5 linked regions of the Homo sapiens genome follow. The protein of the gene in region 4 interacts with the protein of the main gene of each other region in a pairwise test. Each region holds a gene or a part of one and is shown on either strand. Other genes may lie near its edges. The genes, in order: CWF19L2, BAHD1, OTX2, M1AP and OTX1.

Region 1 (4,237 bases), on a different chromosome or scaffold from region 4:
TTTAGTAATTTCGGTTTTTCTGGGAATTTATTCCATAGAAATTGTCAAATTTATTGTCATAAAGTTATTTGTAATATTTCCTTTGTTCTTTTAATGTTTACGGAATCCATAGTGATACCCCTCTTTCATCCCTGATTTTGGTAATTTCTATTTTCTGTTTGTTTCCTCTGTCAGTCTGTCTTGAGGCTTATCAGTTTTATTAATCTTTCTTTATTGCCTTTTAGTTTCCTTGAATTTTCTCTGGTTGTGTGTTTTCTATTTCATTGATTTAAACTATATTTATTCTTTGCGAATACTTTGTGTTTAATTTGCTCTTCTTTTTCTAACTTTCTAAGATGAATGTATCGCCACTGATTTGAAATCTTTTCTAACGTGTATTTATTTTATAAAATTTTCTCATAGCACTGTTGTATCTCTACGTAACTTTGATGTTATATTTTCATTGCTGTCCCATTCAAAATATTTTTTACTTTACTTTTTCTTACTCATGGATATATAAGAGTTTTTAAACTTGCAGATATTTGTGGATTTTTCTAGTTTTTTTTTGGGTTATTGACTTTGATTTTAATTATTATGTTATACTCTGTATAATTTCAGTTTTTAAAAAGTTTTTGAGACATTTTATTTTCTAGCCTATGATCTATTTTGGTGAAAATTCCATATGTATTTGAAATGAGTATGTATTCTGCCATTGTTAGGTATAGTGTTTTATAAATGTCAATTAGGGAAAGTTGACTAATAGTATTAAGTTTAGTGTTAATGATTTTCTGTTCACCTGTTCAGTCAGTTACTGAGAAAATAGTATTGAAATCTCTTAATTGTTTTGTGGATTTTACCTATTTCTGCTTTCAGTTTTGTCAGTTTTTGCCTTATGTAATTTTGAAGCTTTATTAGGTACATAGACAGCTCCTTGATGAACTGACTGTTGTTACGAAGTTTTCGTTTTTATCTTTGGTAATACTCTTGTCTGAAGTCTCTTGTATCTCATATTAATAAAGCCTCTTCAGTTTTCTTTTTTTGTGTGTTTTCATCGTCTTTTTAAAATTCTTTTAGTTTTAATGTACCTTTTTTATATATTGAAAGTGTATTTCTTGTAAGCAGTGTATAATTGGGTCTTGCTTTTTTATCTCGCCTATCAATTTCTTCTTTTTTATTTTATTGATTGATTGATTTATTGATTGATTGACAGAGTCTTGCTTTGTTGCCCAGGCTAGAGTGTAGTAGATCACTGCAGCTTCAACCCCTGGGGCTCAAGTGACTCTCCCACCTCAGCCTCTTGAAAGCTGGGACTACGGGTGTGCACTTCGACGTCCAGGATATATATATATGAGTTTTTAAATTTCCAGATATTTGTGGATTTTATTAGGTTTTTTTGGTTATTGACTTTGGATTTAATTATTATTTTATTGTACTCTGTATAATTTCAGTTGTTAAAAAGTTTTTGAGACATTTTATATTCTAGCCTATGATCTATATATATTTTGTAGAGATGTGGTTTTGCCATGTTGCCCAGCCTGGTCTCAAAGTCTTGACCTTAAGCAATCCTCCCACCTGGGACTCCCAAAGTGCTGGAATTACAAATGTGAGCCACTGCATCTGGCCTCTTCCTTTTTTTTTTTTTTCTTGAGATGGAGTCTCACACTGTCACCCAGGCTGGAGTGCAGTGCCGCAATCTTGGCTCACGTCTCTTACTTTTCAATTAGATGTTTTTTGTGCTCTCTAATCTGTTAGCTGTTTATGGCTTTTAAATTTTTTGTTAAAATTCATTAAAATTATATCAGCCAAATTTATGTGGCTACTATATTCGACAGTATATAGAAAAATTCTTTGAATAGTACTGGTTTGGATTATTTATGTTTAATGTAATAATTGATATGGATGAGTTTAAGTCTACCATGTTGTTATTCCTTTTCTATTTTTTCTTTGTTCTTTTTTCCTTTGTTCCTTCCTTTTCCTGTCTTTTGGATCGAGTGTTTTTTAGCATCCCATTTCATCTGCTGTAGGCTTATTAGGTATACCTTATTTATTTTTAATGACTGCTTTAAGTCTTATGCATATTTTAACTTACCATACTCTCAAATAATATATAATTTTACTTTTATAATTAGACTTTCACCAAAATATACTTCCATTTTCTCCTACCATATTTTTTGCTATTGTTGTCATATATTTTACTTCTACATATGTTATAAACCCACATTGTTTATAATTTTTAATGTCATACATTCTTTTTATTTATACTTTAGTCAGTTATCTTTTAAATAAGTTACACATATGAAGAAAGTCTTTTATATTTACCCACAGATTTATCATCTCTGATATTCTTTATTATTTTATGTAGGTCTGAATTTCTGTCTAATACCATTTTCCTTTTGTCTGTAGAACTTTCATTAACATGTATTATAATATGGATTTGCAGACATTGTATTCTCTCAGCTTTTGTTTGAAAATTTCTTTTATTTCATCTTCATTCTTTTTTTCTTTTACCACAAACTCAGAAGTTCCTACTAGCAATCTTCATTTTTCAGATACTTGGCTAGATAAAGAATTTTAAGTTTATAGTGTTTTCTTTTTTTTTTTTTTTTTGCACTGTAAAATGTCATCCCATTGTCTTCTGGTTTGCATTGTACATATTGAGAACTCTGTAGTCATTGTAATATTTTTTCTCTGTATGTAGTGTGCCTTTTTATTCTGGATGCTTTTAGGGCTTTTTTTTTCATCATTATTTTTCAGTGAATCAATTGTGATATGTCTTGGTATTGATTTCTTTGTGTTTATTCTACTGTCTTAGTTCATTTGGGCTGCTATACCAAAACTAACTGGGTGGATTATAAATGACAGAAACTTATTTCTCACAGTTTGGGAGGCTAGAAAGTCTAAGATCGAGGCGCTGGTAGACTTTGTGTCTGATGAGGGTTCAGTTCCTCAGAGATGGCTGTCTTCTCACTCTAACCTCATATGGCAGAAGGGAGTGCTCTTGGGCTATGTTTTATAAGGGCACTAATCCCATTCCCAGTCATCTCCCAAAGGCCTCAGCCCCTATTATCATTGTCTTGGGAGTCAGGATCTCAACATAAGAATTTGGTGGGGGACACAAACATTCAGAGTGTAGCATCTGCCTTAGGTTCATTGTGCTGCTTTGATTTGTGAGTTTACAGTTTCCATCAAATATGAAACTTTCAGGCTTTTTTCGAAGTATTTTTTTTTTCTGTTCCCTCTCATTTTGGTAGTCTCCTTAAAATAATGTCTCACAGGTTGATGAGCCTGTGTTCACTTACTTTCTAGCCTTTTTCCTTTCTATGCCTTGGGTTGGGTATATTTTATTGCTATGTCGTGAGCTTCAGGTTTACTGGCCTTTTTTTTTTTTTTTTTTTTTTTTTGTGACGGAGTCTCGCTCTGTTGCCAGGCGGGAGTGCAGTGGCGTGATCTCAGCTCACTGCAACCTCCGCCTCCTGGGTTGAAGTGATTCTCGTCCCTCAGCCTCCTGAGTAGTTGGGATTACAGGTGCTCATCACCACGTCCAGCTAATTGTTTGTATTTTTAGTGGAGATGGGGTTTCACCATGTTGGCCAGGATGGTCTGGATCTCCTGACCTCGTGATCTGCCTGCCTCAGCCTCCCAAAGTGCTGGGATTACAGGTGTGAGCCACTGCGCCTGGCCGACTGGCCTTTTCTTTTGCTGTGTCTAGCTTACTGTTATCCCTATCCAGTGACATTTTCATTTCAGGTACTGTATTTTTTTTTTATCATTAGATGTTTCGTTTGGATCTTTCTAATGTTTTTCAGTTTATCTCCTCATTATCTTTACATTTTCCCTTCCTTGAACATATTTATGATAGCTGTGTTAAAGTCTTGGTTTGCTGTTTCATTTTCTCTTGTTTTTTCCTGTTCTGTTTCAATTAAATGATTTTTCTCTTGAATATGGGTCACATTTGCTTGCTTCTTTGAATGTCTAGTAACTTTTAATTGGATGCTGAACCCTATGAAACTTATATTGTGACTGCTGGATTTTGTTGACTTCTTCAGAGAGTATTGAGTTTCCTTTTGGCATACAGTTAATTACTTGTGAATTAGCTTAATCCTTTTCAAGGATTGTTTTTAAGTTTTGTTCGTATGCACCTAGAATAGCTTTACTCTAGGACTGGTTTAGCCTTTCTACTAAGGCATGACCTTTGTGGGTTCTCTGCTGATTGTCATGGATGTTCAGCGAGGTTTCTTTATTCTGGTTGGGAGGAACT
Region 2 (4,237 bases), on a different chromosome or scaffold from region 4:
GCTTCCCTGGAAATTCAGCCTAAGTATGCCTCACCTACTGCCTCCAGGCATTCCTCCTGAGTCCCTTCTAGGTCCCCCCCTTCTCCAGAATAGCCAGGTATCTGCTCTAGCCCCTGATTGTCACTGACCTCCCAAACCCCAGCCCTGCCTAGCGTAGGAGAGGGGAAATGTTCTTCATCTTTCCAGTTAGATGGAAAGTCCCTGCAAGGGAAAGTGAAATAAAAGGTGAGCCCAGGGCACACACAGATGGCAGTCACCTCTTTTAGCACACAGCTTGGTGGAGAGCCTATGGGGTGTTAGGAGGAGTCTTTCCTCCCCTCCCCTCCCCTACTACAGAAAATACCAAAAGTGACCAGGTATGCAGCTCCACCTCACCTTTCCTGTTTCCAGGGGAACACATCCACTTGCTCCCATTGGCACCTGCTACCTCAAGGGTTCCCTTTCTGTTCCTCTTTTTAAGACAAAGGTTATTATTCCCTTTGAAACATGAATTGGGGCAGTGTTGGGAAAAGAGAATAAATCCTGGGCCCTTTCCCAGGTTCTCTGGAGTCCAAAGTGACAAGCGCAGGGATTTGACTACAGCCCATGGCTGCCCTCCCCCTACCACGTCTTAGTGCCATAACCTTTCCCTCTGTCTCTCCTGCCCTCCCTGACCCATCTGCCAGGCAGCTCACCTCGTGCATGCTGGGACTGCGGCCTCCCTGTAAGTGCTCAGGTCTGTAATACCACAGGAGGCTCATCATCAGCTCTCCTGGAAGGACAACACAGTGGTTATGGCTTGAACTGGCAACCTGAGTTACTTAGACAGGCAGAGAGGCTGGCTGGCTGCCCTGGAGGTTCATCCAACCTCAATCCTGCAGGCTCCGGCAACCCATGTCCCCTGCCCCAGGCCAAGCATTCAGAGGCCTGGAATGCTGTTAGGCATGGAGGGAGAAGGGGGAGAAGGCACTGACAGGTGAGGTGGGGGGACAGGTGCCCAGGCTCTGCTGGCTGGAAAGGTTAATGAGCTGATCCAACCCAAGCCACAAGGTCACCCACAGCCCTCGGCAGCAGAGAGACCCCAGCCGAGTGGAAGGCAGACTCTGTGCCAGGAACACGGGGAGACTCACGCCAGGTCAAACTCCAGGCAGGGGCCAATCTGGGGACTACAGTTCTGCTGAAGGCAGCTGCCCCTTGGGTCCCCAGCCAGAGGGAGAGGTACCTGACTCGGGGTTCTCCCAGAGGGCAGAGATCTTGGCCACATAAGGTGTGGAGGTCTTTCGTGGGCCTGATTTGAGAAGGACGGTGTCCCGGACTCGGATTGTCTCCCCATGCCGCTCTACCGCCTGGTAGCTCTTTCGGATGGCTGGCTCCGGCTCATCCTAGGCAACAAACCAATGACACAAATAGGCTTGCAGAGCCACACTCAGAGTAAGGACAGAGAGAGGGAATGACATCCTTTCCACGATTTCCTCAAGATAGTCAAACCACTACCTTGGTTTTGTCAAACCACTATCCTTTTTTGGATGGGGCTGGGGAATTCTCATGGTTGGAGAAAGGATGAGAAAAGGGAATAGGGGTGGAAAAGTGGCCTGAAGCTTCTGGGGCTGAGCTCTGACCACCATACCCGACAGCTGACTCTCACTCCAAGACCCCCAGTGCTGGGTAAGTGCTCATGCTTCCTAATGGAACAAGTCTCGGTCTGAACCCTTAAACCACTGTTATAAGGGGCACAGCCTTTGACAAATTATTTAAAGTATTGCTAAGCCTCAGCTTCCACATCTGTAAAATGGGATTAATTATAGGAAGATGGGATATATACCACATAGGGTAGTGGTGAGGATTAAAGGGCATAATACTTACAAAATGCTTAGCTCAGTTCTGGCATCTAAGAAGTGCTCAATAAATTTTATGTATTTATGTATTTATTTATTTTTAGAGACAGGGTCTCACTCTGTCACCCAGGCTGGAATGCAGTGGTGCAACCATAGTTCACTGCAGCCTCAACCTCCTGGACTCAAGTGATCCTCCTGCCTCAGACTCTCAAGTAGCTGGGACTACAGATGCATGCTACCATGCCTGGCTAATTAAAAAAATTTTTTTTCTGTAGACAGGATCTTGCTATGTCGACCAGGTTGGTCTTGAACTCCTGAGCTCAAACAATCCTCTAGCATCAGCCTCTGAAAGCTCTGGGATTATATGCATGAGCCACCTTGCCCAGCCTCAATAAATTTTAGTTAATATTCTTTTTGTTTTTAATTAATTAATTTTAAAAGCCAGGGTCTCTCTGTCACCCAGACTGGAGTGCAGTGGTGCAATCAGCTCACTGCAGCCTTGAACTCCTGGACCTAAGCAATCCTCCCACTTCAGCCTCCTGGTGCACACCACCATGCCTGGCTAACTAATGTTTTTACTTTGTAGAGATGAGGTCTATATTGCTCAGGCTCGTCTTGAACTCCTGGCCTCATGCGATCTTACCACTTCCACCACCTAAAGTACTGGGATTACAGATGTGAGCCACCGCACTTGGCCTCTTTTCATCATCCGAGATGTTCTCTGTGTCACTAATTTTCTCTGCCCATTCCAACGCCCCCTATATAGACTTATCCAGAAAAGTTCTCCATTGAAAGTCCTCCACTTTACAATCCAGGGTGTAAGGGACAAAGTGAGCAGGGAGGGGAGGGGAAGACACTCACCGAGATGGCAGCCACCAGCTATGACTGTGTGTCTCCTGACCTCCCTGGGGTGTCTGGTACAGGATCAGTAGGGGGCTAGGGAAGCAAGCTGGGTGGGCCAGCATGACTGGTTCCTGGGGTACAAGTAAACTGGAGTCCCTTGTCAGCTCTCAGAGTAGCTAGAACCAGGTGCTTCTAGCACCTACCTCACTGCAGGTCATGTGTCCCCACTGCCTCCCTCCCTCTCGTCATCAGCTAAGAGCTAGCACTTACCAAGACATACACAGCCTTCTCACACGCAGCCCCAACAGGTACCCAGCCATTAGTGCGGCGGCGACGGCGGCGGCGAGGGCGTGGGCGCTGGACACGTGGCTGCTTGGGGTGGCTAGGCCTGCGGGCAGCCTTGCTCCTTGCAGTGTGCCTGCAGCTGGAGCCTGTGCGCAGACCTGACTTAGAACCGCTGGGAGGTTTGGCGCTCTGAGGGCACGCACGGGCTACTGTCTGGGGCTCCGAGGTGGGTGTCTGAAGATGGGGGACGGGCTCTGCTGCAGGTGGCACACTGGGTACAGGGCACCCCAGGAGTGGGTGGGCGGGTGAGGCTGGGTGGCCAGCTTCCGGGAGAGGAAATTCCAACTGGCCCAGGGATCTGCAGCCTTCTAGGAAAGGGAGAGAGTGGTCAGGACAGGACAAGCAGTGACCCCCATCACCCATCTGCTTTCAGAGCCTGCTCCTGTCTTAATTCTAACTGTGCAACCAAAGGCCACTGAGGTGGCCGATGGGATCAGAGGCCTTTTTATGGTGGACTGTCAGAGTGACTCTCTAAGGGGACAGGGGTGTTTCCTGATCTTGGAGATTGGCCATCTCCCCTTTTAGTCTGAAAGAGAGGTGGTTGGAACATCCTTTTTAACTCCGAACTTTTTTTTTTTTTGAGACAGAGTCTCGCTCTGTTGCCCAGGCTAGAGTGCAGTGGTGCTATCTTGGCTCACTGCAACCTCCGCCTCTCGGGTTCAAGCATTTCTCCTGCCTCAGCCTCCTGAGTAGCTGGGATTACAGGTGCCCATCACCACACCCAGCTAATTTTTTTGTATGTTTAGTAGAGATAGGGTTTCACCATGTTAGACAGGCTGGTCTCAACCTACTGAGCTCAGGCAATCTGCCCGCCTCAGCCTCCCAAAGTGCTAGGATTACAGGCATGAGCCACCGCGCCTGGCCCTGATATTAATTTTCTAAGGCTTTCATAATGCTTGGGAATAGGGGTTCTAGAATCAGCCTGGGTTCTGCCACTTACTAGCCATGTGACTTCAGGCAAGTCACTCTGCCCCTCAGAGCAACTGGCTGGTTTTCTTACGAACACATTAACTCATTTCATCCTTACAAAAACCCTGTGAGATAGGTATCATTACACCCATTTTATAGTTAAGAAAACTGAGACACAGAGCAGTTACTGACTCGCCCATAGTCACATGGCTAGGAAAGTGGGGGAGAACATTTCACTCCAGGCAGTCTGGCTTCGGAGTCTGTGCTCAATTACATGCCAAGCAGCCTCCCATATGTAAAGCACTCAGAACAGTGCCTGGTACATG
Region 3 (4,237 bases), on a different chromosome or scaffold from region 4:
CCATGCCTTCTATGCAGAGTGCATACCTAGGCCGGTTGTGGAGAGAATCTCTTAGTTTTGGGTTTTGGTTTTCCTCTTTTCCTTTTAAAGGTGGATCCAGGAGCAAAAGTGAAAATAGTCTATTTTGAGAATTTTAGCCATTTTGCAATGGTAAGGGCAAAGGAGCCCCTGGAAGGATCTCGGCCCTGGTGCTTTCTGTGTGTTACTGGCTTTTTATGTTGGAATGTGCTACTTTATTGTATGATGTGTCAGGCATTTCTAATTGGGTGAGAGCTCTACATGTAAGAACATTTCCATATTTCTCAAGGGTACATCTGATATGATTTTACGATTCTCTATAGCACTGTAGTTCAGAATTTTGCAAGGTAGTACGATTAAACAAAAAATCTCCAATCTCCAGTTTAGAGGCTGTTTAAACACATATACAACTGTATTTTAAAGCTGTCGCATATGTGTTTAAACAGCCTCTAAGCTGGAGATTTTTGTTTATTTTCGCAGCCTCCAAAGAACAGCATTTTGAAAAGAAAAGACAATACAAAAACATAAAGTCTGTATTGTAGGGGCAACTAAATTAGTTGTACTGAGGATAATACAAACTCCTCCAAGAAAGACATTTATAAAATTATATTAAGTTAGATCTTAGGGTAGAAAAGCATGACTTTTGTGCTCTGAATTTAAATCAGAAAGAAGTTGCAGTTACTAAGTTTCATTTATGGACTTTTGTGCCTTGCTGTCTTAAGCAACGTAAATATGAAAACCCGGAGTCCTTTAAAGTCAGTGAGACCTTTATCTTGTATCCGCCATTTTGAAGCAATCTCTCATGGTGTCAAAGTTTCAAAGTAGAGATCCTTGCATATAAGTGCCACATTTTAGGAAAATAAAGGCCAGACTTGCAAACTGCCAGTCTATATTAACATCTACTTTGAATCTCTTTGCTGGGGTGGAGGCGGGGAGCTCAGCTGAAGAAAGTAAATAACTTTTCTTTTTCTTCCTTTCTTTTCCCCCTTGAGCTCTTTTTCTTATAGGATTGTAGGAAACTTGAAAGGTAGGGAGAAATTCTACTAGTTTCACAACTTTGGGTGTTTGTGTATCTACTTTCTTCAAAACTAAAATGTGCAAAAGGCAGTTAGAGTTAACAGGAAACTCTGCTGCAGCTGCCGAGGACCCAAATGTCTGAAAATTTGCCTCCCGCAGGATCTGCAGCCTCCACACATCAAAATCAACATGGAAGCAGCTTGCACTACAAATGTGGGGTCCCGTCATTATCTGATTGGTGGGATTCTAACTTTACTTCACAATTTCTGGCAAGCCCTGTGCCAATCTTGAAGACTTTTTTGGAATATGCTTAAATATTTGATGGGTGTCTATTAAAAGTTAAATACTTGTTTGTTTAGCTTTCGTTCCTTAGACACATATAATCAAGATTCTCCAAAACCCTAATAAATCTGTTACTTACCTCGAAATCTAATTACCCAGACTACTAATTAGGTGAAAATGATTACCGGAAATGACTTCAAATGTGGAATAATAGTGGTTGAGCGGTTTTTCCAAGTTTGTGGTTTAGTGAGTTGGTATTTTAGATGTTAAACGCACTGACATTTTAGGTTCGCAGCAGTTGAAAGTGGTAAAAAGCTAAGATAATTAAAATCTCTGCCATGGAAAGGCAACAGTCTGGGGAGAGGTAGATTTCTTGAATTGTTTCTTTGTTTCTCACCAATGGGCTTTGTTATCAGCATTATTTATTTAGCCAAAGAGTTCTTTGTCTCTGCAAATGGCCCCAATCAAGTTTTGTTTGAGACAATTAGCTAGTGCCAGCCAATGAGTCCTATGCAAATGTAGGGATAGGAATGCAATGTGTGCATTTGAAGGCACGGGTTTTTGTTCTTGGGGAAGGCAGATTGTAATTGCTTTCTTCGGGTACTTTTTTTTTTTTTTTAAGTTTAGGGTGGGGGTGGGGAAGACAGGTTTATCTGGTCTCCTTCCATCCCCTCTAGTTCCAGAGCAGCTGGGGGTGGGGGTGGGGATGGGGGTGGGGGGAGTGTCTGCAAGTCCTTTAAAAGCCTCTGCCTCGCCTAGTCCGTGCTCTTTTTAAGTTAGTGCTGGAACGTGGAAGAGCTGCTGCCTCCGAAGCAGTAAACCAGCCCCTCTGTTTGTTTGTTTGCTTTGCCCTTAGTTCCACTGCTCCAAACCCACCCACCAAGGACTCTGAACCTGTCCACCCCGGGCGCATCAAGATCTTCCAGCTGGGTACCCCCGATTTGGGCCGACTTTGCACCTCCAAACAACCTTAGCATGATGTCTTATCTTAAGCAACCGCCTTACGCAGTCAATGGGCTGAGTCTGACCACTTCGGGTATGGACTTGCTGCACCCCTCCGTGGGCTACCCGGGTAAGTGAGCCCTGCTGCACTCCCGCACCCCTCTTCCCCATGCCCACCCTCCGGGGATGCAACACCCTGTTCCCATGGAACACGGGGGTTGGCAGTCACACTGTCCCCACCCAGCTTCAGGCTTGGTCTCCTCTAGGTTTGCCTTCTGAGGAAGCAGTCCCAGGGCATTTACTGACCAAGCAGAGAACAGGGGTTGGGAAAAGTGAGTAGGTGGGTCTGCAACCGTTACAATCACATCACTTTATTCTTAATTCGAGTAAATAAGGATTGGCATCAGAGTGGGATGAGGAAGGTTACTGTCCTTGTCATTTGGGCAAAAGACCCCTACCCATATCTCAATGACCAATTCCTCAGAAGTGTCCTCTTGGAGAAGCTGAGTTTTCCCTCCGTAAGTCCTTAGCACTCTCGGGCTTCGCAGTTGTTCCCTCCATGCCCAGGCCTTCCCCTATGACCTCCAGAGCCTGCTTTAATCCCAAGAGGCGTGACTTCCTCCAAATGCGGGTGCTTTCCTTTCCAATCAGATATGTTTAAAAATCCTCCCAGGAGTATGAACTATGTCCCCATTTTAAAGATGGAGGAACAAAGGCCCATGGTGTGCTAAAAACCATGGGAACAGGATCCAGATTTCCCCCATCAATTCGAGCTGCCAGTCTGTCCTCGGAGATCCTTTGACTTCTTGGAATAGCCTTTTTGTGTTGTGGTTTGGGGGTTGATCTTGGAGAACTTTTTTGTGTGTCTTTTAAAAAATGTTTCATTTGTTAACTTTCCAAGTGATGCTCTGATTGGAGCAATCTCAACACCAAGAAGAGTAGGGAAAGAAGCAGCGTGTGTCCTGGGTCCCCGGGGAGCAAGGCTGGGGAGACGGTGGGGAGAGCATTGGTAGGCTCCCGGCTGAAGGGCTGTGAGGAACGGGGGACTGCTGCGGGGTGGAGGGCAGGGGCGTCGGAGAACCCGCGGAAACGCCTATGACTGAGAAACTGCTCCCCCACCCTAAAGGGCCCTGGGCTTCTTGTCCCGCAGCCACCCCCCGGAAACAGCGCCGGGAGAGGACGACGTTCACTCGGGCGCAGCTAGATGTGCTGGAAGCACTGTTTGCCAAGACCCGGTACCCAGACATCTTCATGCGAGAGGAGGTGGCACTGAAAATCAACTTGCCCGAGTCGAGGGTGCAGGTAGGGCAGATGCAGGCAGAACCATCCTTCCTGATCATGCCACCCTTCCCGAGTATGGGACTGTGGAGAGCCCCAGGTCTTTCAGAGGACTGAAGGAAGGCTTGAAATTCTCCTTCACTCACTAAGGGGCCAGGAAACTATTCTCCTTCTGCCCTTTTTTGCCTGCCCGTCACCACTTAATCCCGTAAGCAAGGGTCTTCAAGGCCCGGGTTGCTGGTGGAGAGAGACCCATCCTTGAGCAGGTTTCAAGAGTAGTCACGTGGTGTTGTAACCCTTCCCTTCCTCTGTATAGAAATCCTCTCCTATTCTCATGGACTTGTACGTGTGAAAGCAGCTTAGCTCTTGGACAGTCCAAGTATTTTTACAGATGAAAAAATAGAGTAAATGACTTGCTCAAGGTCATAACTAAGTTTGGTGGCAGAGTCAGGGTATAGACGCAGCTGGTGCTTTTACCAAATAAATCAACACAAAAAGAATGTATTTTCCTTGACTTCTTAGGGATTGAAGAGAATTTTCTAGTTCTGAGCCATTTAACAGATAAAATATCTACATAATGTCTCTAGTGACACCCCTCTTGTTTTAGTTCCCCTAAACTTGACCTTAAACTGGAGAGGGAAGGTCAACTCCAGCTTGCCTTGTGAGTGAGCCCTGTACAGAATTCTCTGCAAAGTGTTTA
Region 4 (4,237 bases):
CCTTCTTTGGCCTTGGGTAGTTTCCTCATGTGCATGTACTGATCAGTACTCTGCTGAATACTCAAGGGGCACCCTCTTCAGGTCTTTATAGAGTTCTGTATGTAGCTCCTTCTCCTCTAGCTATTAATACCTTGGTCTCTCTGAAGTCCCAGATCCATCTCCTTGACTCAAGGAAACCACTGGCACCCGCCCCTAGGTTCTCCCTCTCTGCATTGTAGCTTAGAAACTTTCTCAAGGCAGTAAGCTGGGACAATTCTTTTTTTTTTTTTTGAGACGGAGTCTTGCTCTGTCACCCAGGCTGGAGTGCAGTGGCGCGACCTCGGCTCACTACAACCTCCGCCTCCAGGGTTCAAGCGATTCTCCCGCCTCAGCCTCCCGAGTAGCTGGGATTACAGGCAGCCGCCATCATGCCTGGATAATTTTTGTATTTTTGTAGAGGTGGGGTTTTACCATGTTGGCCAGGCTGGTCTTGAACTACTGACCTCAGGTGATCTGCAAGCTGGAACAATTCTAAGTCTCACCTCATTGACTTCCTATCACCCAGGGGGCTTTGTTCTTTGCTGCGTGATGTCCAGTGTTTTGAAAAGTGTTTTTCATAGGTTTTATCCAGTTTTTTTTTATTGTTTGAGGCAAGAGGGTAAATCAGCTTGCTGTTATTCTATCTAGGGTGGAACAGTGACTTGCTTCCAATGAACAGAATGTGGAGGAAGTGACAACATGTTACTTTTGAGACTAAGACATAAAAGGTATTTTGGCTTCTTCATTGCTCTCTCTCTCTTTTGGATCAGTCGTTCTGGGAGAAGCCCGCTGCCACAAATTAAGGACATTCAAGCAGCCCTTTGGAGAGATCCAAGTGGTCAGGAAACAAGAATTTCTGCCAACAGCTAAGTGAATACGCCATCTTGCAACTGGATCCTCCAGCCTCAATCAAGCTTTCAGATGACTGACATCTTGGCTACAATCTCATGAGGGACCCCAAGCCTGATCTACCTAAGCCACTTATGAATTCCTAACTCATAGTAACTATGAGATGATGTTTATTAATTTAGACCACTACATTTTGGGATAATTTGTTACACAGCAATAAACAATGAATAGAGGTACCAAATTCTGCTCAAACTGTAGAAAGGATCAGTTGAATTTCTTAAATAATTTTATCCTTTTCCCATCCCCAACCCAGCCTAAGTAACAATGCACAGACAAAATCCCCATACTTAGCACTGGAGCATTTATACTCAAAACTTTCCCTGTGTGACTTTTGTCAAGAAATAAACCATGAGTTGTTATAAGCCTAAGGTTCTGTCAAAGCAACCAGGGTATGTTCTAACTCAAGAAGCATGAAGTAATATATATTATTTTCATTCTTTATAGTATCAACAGAGATGTTATCTTTCCACTTCCAATGAGGGAAACTAAGGCATTAATAAAAAAATAGATTTCAGTCATATATTACATTCATAATTCAGCAATGGATTTATGAAATTTCCTCTTTTGGAAATCTTAAATAAGACTTATATCCATTTGATAACGTATATTAGCAGCAAGGCTACCTCAAGGAAGGAGATGCATAGAACCTCTGGAAGTCTTTCTCTTCACTATGATTCTGAATTTTATACAAGGGAGAAAGGGAAGATTGAAATTTTGAGGAGGAGCATAGATAATTGTTTATGTATGAAGGAGCTTTGTAAAGACACTGCCCCTGGCCCAGCCATTGCCTTCCATAACCCTAGGGGGCAGTTTCACCTGAGTCTATGTGGAATGTAGAAAAAATATTTTCATGTTTTTGCATAGTTAGGGCTTTCTGAGCAAAGAAAACTGGTACCTGGGTTAAAGGGCAAGTCTTGGAAGTTAAAAGATGATTGAATAGTCAGAGACCTCAGAAGAGATTTAGAGGCTTCCCTCCTTGTGTGTTTACATTTCAAAGGGCATAAAAGGAGTCAGTTGTTTACATTTCAAACATCTGTCAATGCCAAGGTTTCTCTCCCTCTCTCTGGAGTGGAGCTTGTAGCCTATTTATACTCCCAGATTAATAATTTTGGATTTTCTCTTCAACAGTACACACCCCTATATATGCAGGATGCCCTCTGGCTCTCATGGTGTTACTCGGGGGCTACTGTGTGTGGAGAAGTAGTGCGGTTATTGTTATAAGTATTAATAACTGTGATCTCTATTCCAGAAACCTTACCACTGTATTTGCTTTCAGGGTAAAATGAATAAATATAGATATACTTACCACAAAAGGGAGGATGCACTCATGCTGATCTTGTACCATGTATAAACTGAACAGGGACATGCGGCTGGGGCCCATCAAGCTGCAGGCTAGAGAGAAGAAGTTCTGCAGAGCCTCACAGAGGTTGGTGCAGATGTCAGCCCAGGACGGTAGAGCAATGTGCACAATGAGAAGCCGTGGAGGTTGCTGGTCAATCTGAGTGTGAGTAGAGGGCCCTTTACCAGTAGTTCGCCCAGGATGCATGGCAGCAAAACCAGAGGGGGAACTGTAGCCACCAGCTGGATATTCTTTACACCTATAGGGAAGGAAAGAGAAACCACTGGTTTTCAAACTGAATTATGTGTGCTCTGTTGAAATATAAAATACAAGTCGAGGGAAACAAATCCAGAAAGGAGTCAGATTGGGTACTAAAGCTTGTCCAGGCCATCCTATTTTTTTTTTTTTTTTGAGACAGAGTCTCGGTATGTCACCAGGCTGGAGCGCAGTGGTGCGATCTTGGCTCACTGCAACCTCTGTCTCCCAGGTTCAAGCGATTCTCCTGCTTCAGCTTCCCGAGTAGCTAGGACTACAGGTGCACACCACCACGCCCAGCTAATTTTTGTATTTTTAGAGATGGGGTTTCACCATGTTGGCCAGGATGGTCTTGATCTCTTGACCTCACGATCCGCCCGCCTTGGCCTCCCAAAGTGCTGGAATTACAGGCGTGAGCCACCGTACCTGGCCCAGGCCATCCTATTTTAACAGCTCCCAAGAGATCTAGATGTTTGCCTATCATGTAAGCCTGAGAATGCTTAGAGATGCTGAGTGGAACTAATCAAAAGTTACACCAAAAAACTCAAGCTTCTGTCTCAAAGTAAGCTATCTGCCCTCATAAACTTTGTTTCTTTATTGGCATTTATTGCACTCTATTACAATTTGTTTCTATGACTGCCTCTCCCACTATATTGTAAGCTTCCCAAGGGTAGAGAACCTGTCTTGTTGATATTATTCATCAATGCCTAGCATATGTGTGTTTAGTACCTAACGAATAATTCTTAAAAATGAAAATATGACTACATTTCTCCTTGGTTAAAATTCTTTGGTTGTCTGAATCTCTTATAAGGTAAAATTTAAACTGTCTTTAAGACCTGTCATTACTTAATTGTTAGCCTCATTAGAAATTGTTCTTCGCCTCAAGATTTTCACGGAAACAATACCAAATATATTCACTTTAGTGCATTTGCTCATGCTGCTTCTCTGCCTCCAATACTCCTGCCTTCTTTCTCTACTGGCTACTTATACTTATCCCCAGGACTCAGATTAGGAAGTGAGAACAATTGAGAACAAAGAACCAATATAAGGAATGAGAAAGGGACATCATCACAAATGCTCAAACGTGAAAAGGGTTATAGGAGGACATAATGAATAGCTTTATGCTAATAAGTTTGATAAAGTGGACAAATTCCTAGAAAAATGTATCTAACCAATACTAAAGAAATTTTAGAAACCTAAATAGTCTATAATCATTAAGGAAATGTAATTGGTAATCAAATATCTTCCCACAAGTAAGAGGGTCAGATGATTTCACTGATGAGCTCCATCAAACATGCAAAGACCAAGAATTTCAATCTTTTTTTTTTTTTTTGTAGAGATGGGGTCTTGCCATGTTGCCCAAGATGGTCTCAAACTCCTGGGCTCAAGTGATCCACCTGCCTCGGCCTCCTGAAGTGCTGGGATTACAGGTGTGAGCCACCGCGCCCAGCCAAGAATTTCAATCTTAAACAAATTATTTTAAGAACAGAAGAACATATATAACAGGATACACTCCTCAACTAATTTTTTTTTTTTTTTTAGATGGAGTTTCACTCTTGTTGCCCAGGCTGGAGTGCAATGGCATGATCTTGGCTCGCTGCAACCTCCGCCTCCCGGGTTCAAGCGATTCTCCTGCCTCAGCCTCCTGAGTAGCTGGGATTACAGGCATGTGCCACCATGCCTGGCTAGTTTTGTATTTTTAGTAGAGACAGGGTT
Region 5 (2,988 bases), about 12 Mb from region 4:
CATTGGCCGCGCCTAGCAACACCTCGTGTATGCAGCGCTCCGTAGCTGCAGGCGCCGCCACCGCAGCAGCCTCTTATCCCATGTCCTACGGCCAGGGCGGCAGCTACGGCCAAGGCTACCCTACGCCCTCCTCTTCCTACTTTGGCGGCGTGGACTGCAGCTCATACCTAGCGCCCATGCACTCACATCACCACCCGCACCAGCTCAGCCCCATGGCACCCTCCTCCATGGCGGGCCACCATCATCACCACCCACATGCGCACCACCCGTTGAGCCAGTCCTCAGGCCACCACCACCACCATCACCACCACCACCACCAAGGCTACGGTGGCTCTGGGCTTGCCTTCAACTCTGCCGACTGCTTGGATTACAAGGAGCCTGGCGCCGCTGCTGCTTCCTCCGCCTGGAAACTCAACTTCAACTCCCCCGACTGTCTGGACTATAAGGACCAAGCCTCATGGCGGTTCCAGGTCTTGTGAGCCCAGGAATGAAAGAGGAGAAGAAACGCAACTACCTGCGCCCTCCGTGGTCCCGATCCTGTTGCTGCTGCTGCACCGCCCGCCTTTGCCTCGTCTTCTCCAAAACTGAATTTTCACCCCCCAAAAAGATGTCCATTGCCTGCACTGCCGCCCCCATTTTTGTGCCACTTGCTTGGGGGGATGTGCAAACCCACCCTGCCCCTTGGATGGGGGGACCGGTGCTTCGGCTTGGCCTACACATTCTATACAGGAGAGATGTATTATTTCCCCCCTTCAGCCCCTACTAAACTCTTAAGCCTCCCCTTCCAGTCTTTCTGGACAGCTATTAAGCACTTGCAGCCTTCGGAGGCTCTGCGCTCTGATCCGCTGTTTGAGCCCAACACTTTAATTTATTCTTTCTGGACACTGGAGTCACTAACTGGCGTGTTTCTGCCCATTGGAGCACCCGCACACTACTCCAAATCAAAACCACTAAGAGTTCCTCCCGCGCAGACTGCTGCCCCTTCAGCTGCCCTCGATTTTGCTCCACGCCTGCCGGCCAGAGCCTCCCGGCGTTTCTTCCGCCCCAGCGGAGTGCGCTGGGGCGCGCCAGGGCTAGGCCCGCCGGAGGAGCGCGTCCCCAGCCTTCCGCGCACAGAGCCGCATCCCGCCCCGCCCTGCGCTGGACTGGTTCAAGCTTCCGCCTCGGCGGGAACGCTGTACATAGTCAGGTCCGTTCCAGGGACCACTTAAACTTTTTAGTTGCTGTTGGTTGGTTGAACTGAACATATCTTGTCTTAGCACCCAGGAAACAGAACTTTAAGATATATACAGCACATATATATATATATACATATATATATACACATATATAAAAAACAAAAGCAAAAAATATTTTCCCTCTGTCCGTCCCCCTTCTGCTCTTCCTCAATCAATGGCGCTTTTTCTTTTTCAGTTGTTGCAAAGCTGCCCTGCCCTCTTCACATCTTCTCCCTCTGTGTATTTATTGAAGAGAACCGCTTGGTTTCAGGAAGCTGGGCGCGGGATATCCGAAGTGTGGAGGAAACAGACAAGTCAGGGTACAGAGGTGGGGGTTGGGCAGGGGCGCAGGGCTGACCCCCTCACCCGGTCTAAGCACAGGGTCGCAGTTCCAGTTTACAAACCTAAAACAAGAAAACCAAAACCAGGGAACAAAACAACAAAACAAAACAAAATCCGTAAAAGTACAGCATTAGGGAAAAACAAACAAACCCAGGCCCCAAACCCAGTTCCAACTCCTCTGTCGGCTTCTCTCTTTCAACACCCTTGTTTTGTCTAGTGAGTTTTTAGTGCACCTTCGTTCTCCGAAATCTGCGGAGAGCCCGCGCGCCTGTGTATCAATTTTGGCTTTGGCCGCTTCGTCCAGTAGGTGGGAAAGTAATTTGTAAATTTGATTTGTCTGATGTGAAGATCACAAATTACTTGTTGAAATGTAAGGCAGTCCCCCTCCTCCTCTTTATCTACATTACTTCCCGAAAATAAATGCAAATTAATGAACGGCTTGTCAGTGTTGCTCTTCTGATTCCAGCCCGAGGTCCTGGTCTCGGGGGGCTAAAAGCGAGGGAAACTCCGTGTTAATAACCCGCGTGTTAATGACCTGCGTGAAGCTGGAGGCCAAAGGATGAGGCGGGAGGACTTGGCAAGAGAAGTCCCCAGAAACTTTCGCTTAGGGAGTGTCTCCCCCCACCCCCACCACGCCCCTCCGCGTCAGCCTGGCCTCTTCCCCCAGGCGTTTTGACCCCGCATCCCCCCTCGCCATCCAGGACAGAGACAGGTGTCAGGACTCAATTCCCGAAGCAATTCCTTTCTCTTCAGAGGCAGGAGCCTGGCACTGATTTCTTCACCCTAATTGCCTGCACCAGAAAGAAGAGGGGGAGGGGAAGAGGGTCGGGAGGCGGGAAAGGATAGCTCTGTAATGCTCTCAGAGCTGAGCCAAAAAGGAAAAGAAAGCAAAACGACAAAAAACTGATCCGTGTCCTGCATGTTGGCAGCAGACAACCTTCCTTGCTGCTGAGCTGTCCCGGGTGGCTTCACCGCGGCTGGGGAATCCGAGCCATTCCTTCCACGTGCTAAGATGTCCCTCTAAGCCCTCAGCTCCTGCCAGAAGTAGCCAAATTACCTTTCTTCGTACTGTAAACTTCCTTTAAAACATACAAACTCATAACCTGGAAAAGTCGACAAGGACGCCTTTCACTTTGGCAGGGGAAGAAGACGACTGGCTTGCATCTGGGGGTCAGGAAGGACAGTTCCATCTCCCTCTGAGGGAAGACGGGGTTGAGGGGTAATCCTCCCCCAGAAAATGCAGAGCCTGGAACTGTCCAGACTCTGGCCTGAAACCTCCTGGGTGTAAGGCCATGAATCTGCTCGACTTGCTCACGGGCGGGAAGGAAACAAGGAAACAACGAAAAGTTTCCTGCGAAGTGACCAACATCCCCTATTTTTTAAAAATTCCGTGTGAGACCTGAGAACACACTGTGAAGCGGGGTTCGGA

Evidence for each region.
Region 1: the proteins of M1AP (region 4) and CWF19L2 interact in binary tests that used the Homo sapiens proteins (3 or more experiments, as listed by UniProt).
Region 2: the proteins of M1AP (region 4) and BAHD1 interact in binary tests that used the Homo sapiens proteins (3 or more experiments, as listed by UniProt).
Region 3: the proteins of M1AP (region 4) and OTX2 interact in binary tests that used the Homo sapiens proteins (3 or more experiments, as listed by UniProt).
Region 5: the proteins of M1AP (region 4) and OTX1 interact in binary tests that used the Homo sapiens proteins (3 or more experiments, as listed by UniProt).

The regions. Positions count from the first base shown.
Region 1 is NC_000011.10:107,447,487-107,451,723, reverse strand, and holds part of CWF19L2 (CWF19-like protein 2), read left to right. Parts: intron 1-4,237.
Region 2 is NC_000015.10:40,460,985-40,465,221, reverse strand, and holds part of BAHD1 (bromo adjacent homology domain-containing 1 protein), read right to left. Parts: intron 3,311-4,237; coding exon 2,928-3,310; intron 1,362-2,927; coding exon 1,202-1,361; intron 752-1,201; coding exon 675-751; intron 1-674.
Region 3 is NC_000014.9:56,803,512-56,807,748, reverse strand, and holds part of OTX2 (homeobox protein OTX2), read left to right. Parts: intron 1-2,081; exon of another isoform or gene 2,082-2,173; 5' UTR 2,174-2,292; coding exon 2,293-2,389; intron 2,390-3,385; coding exon 3,386-3,561; intron 3,562-4,237. UniProt on the Homo sapiens protein: Transcription factor probably involved in the development of the brain and the sense organs. Can bind to the bicoid/BCD target sequence (BTS): 5'-TCTAATCCC-3'.
Region 4 is NC_000002.12:74,637,803-74,642,039, forward strand, and holds part of M1AP (meiosis 1 arrest protein), read right to left. Parts: intron 2,526-4,237; coding exon of another isoform or gene 2,474-2,525; coding exon 2,234-2,473; intron 1-2,233. UniProt on the Homo sapiens protein: Required for meiosis I progression during spermatogenesis.
Region 5 is NC_000002.12:63,055,838-63,058,825, forward strand, and holds the end of OTX1 (homeobox protein OTX1), read left to right. Parts: coding exon 1-479; 3' UTR 480-1,994; downstream 1,995-2,988. UniProt on the Homo sapiens protein: Probably plays a role in the development of the brain and the sense organs. Can bind to the BCD target sequence (BTS): 5'-TCTAATCCC-3'.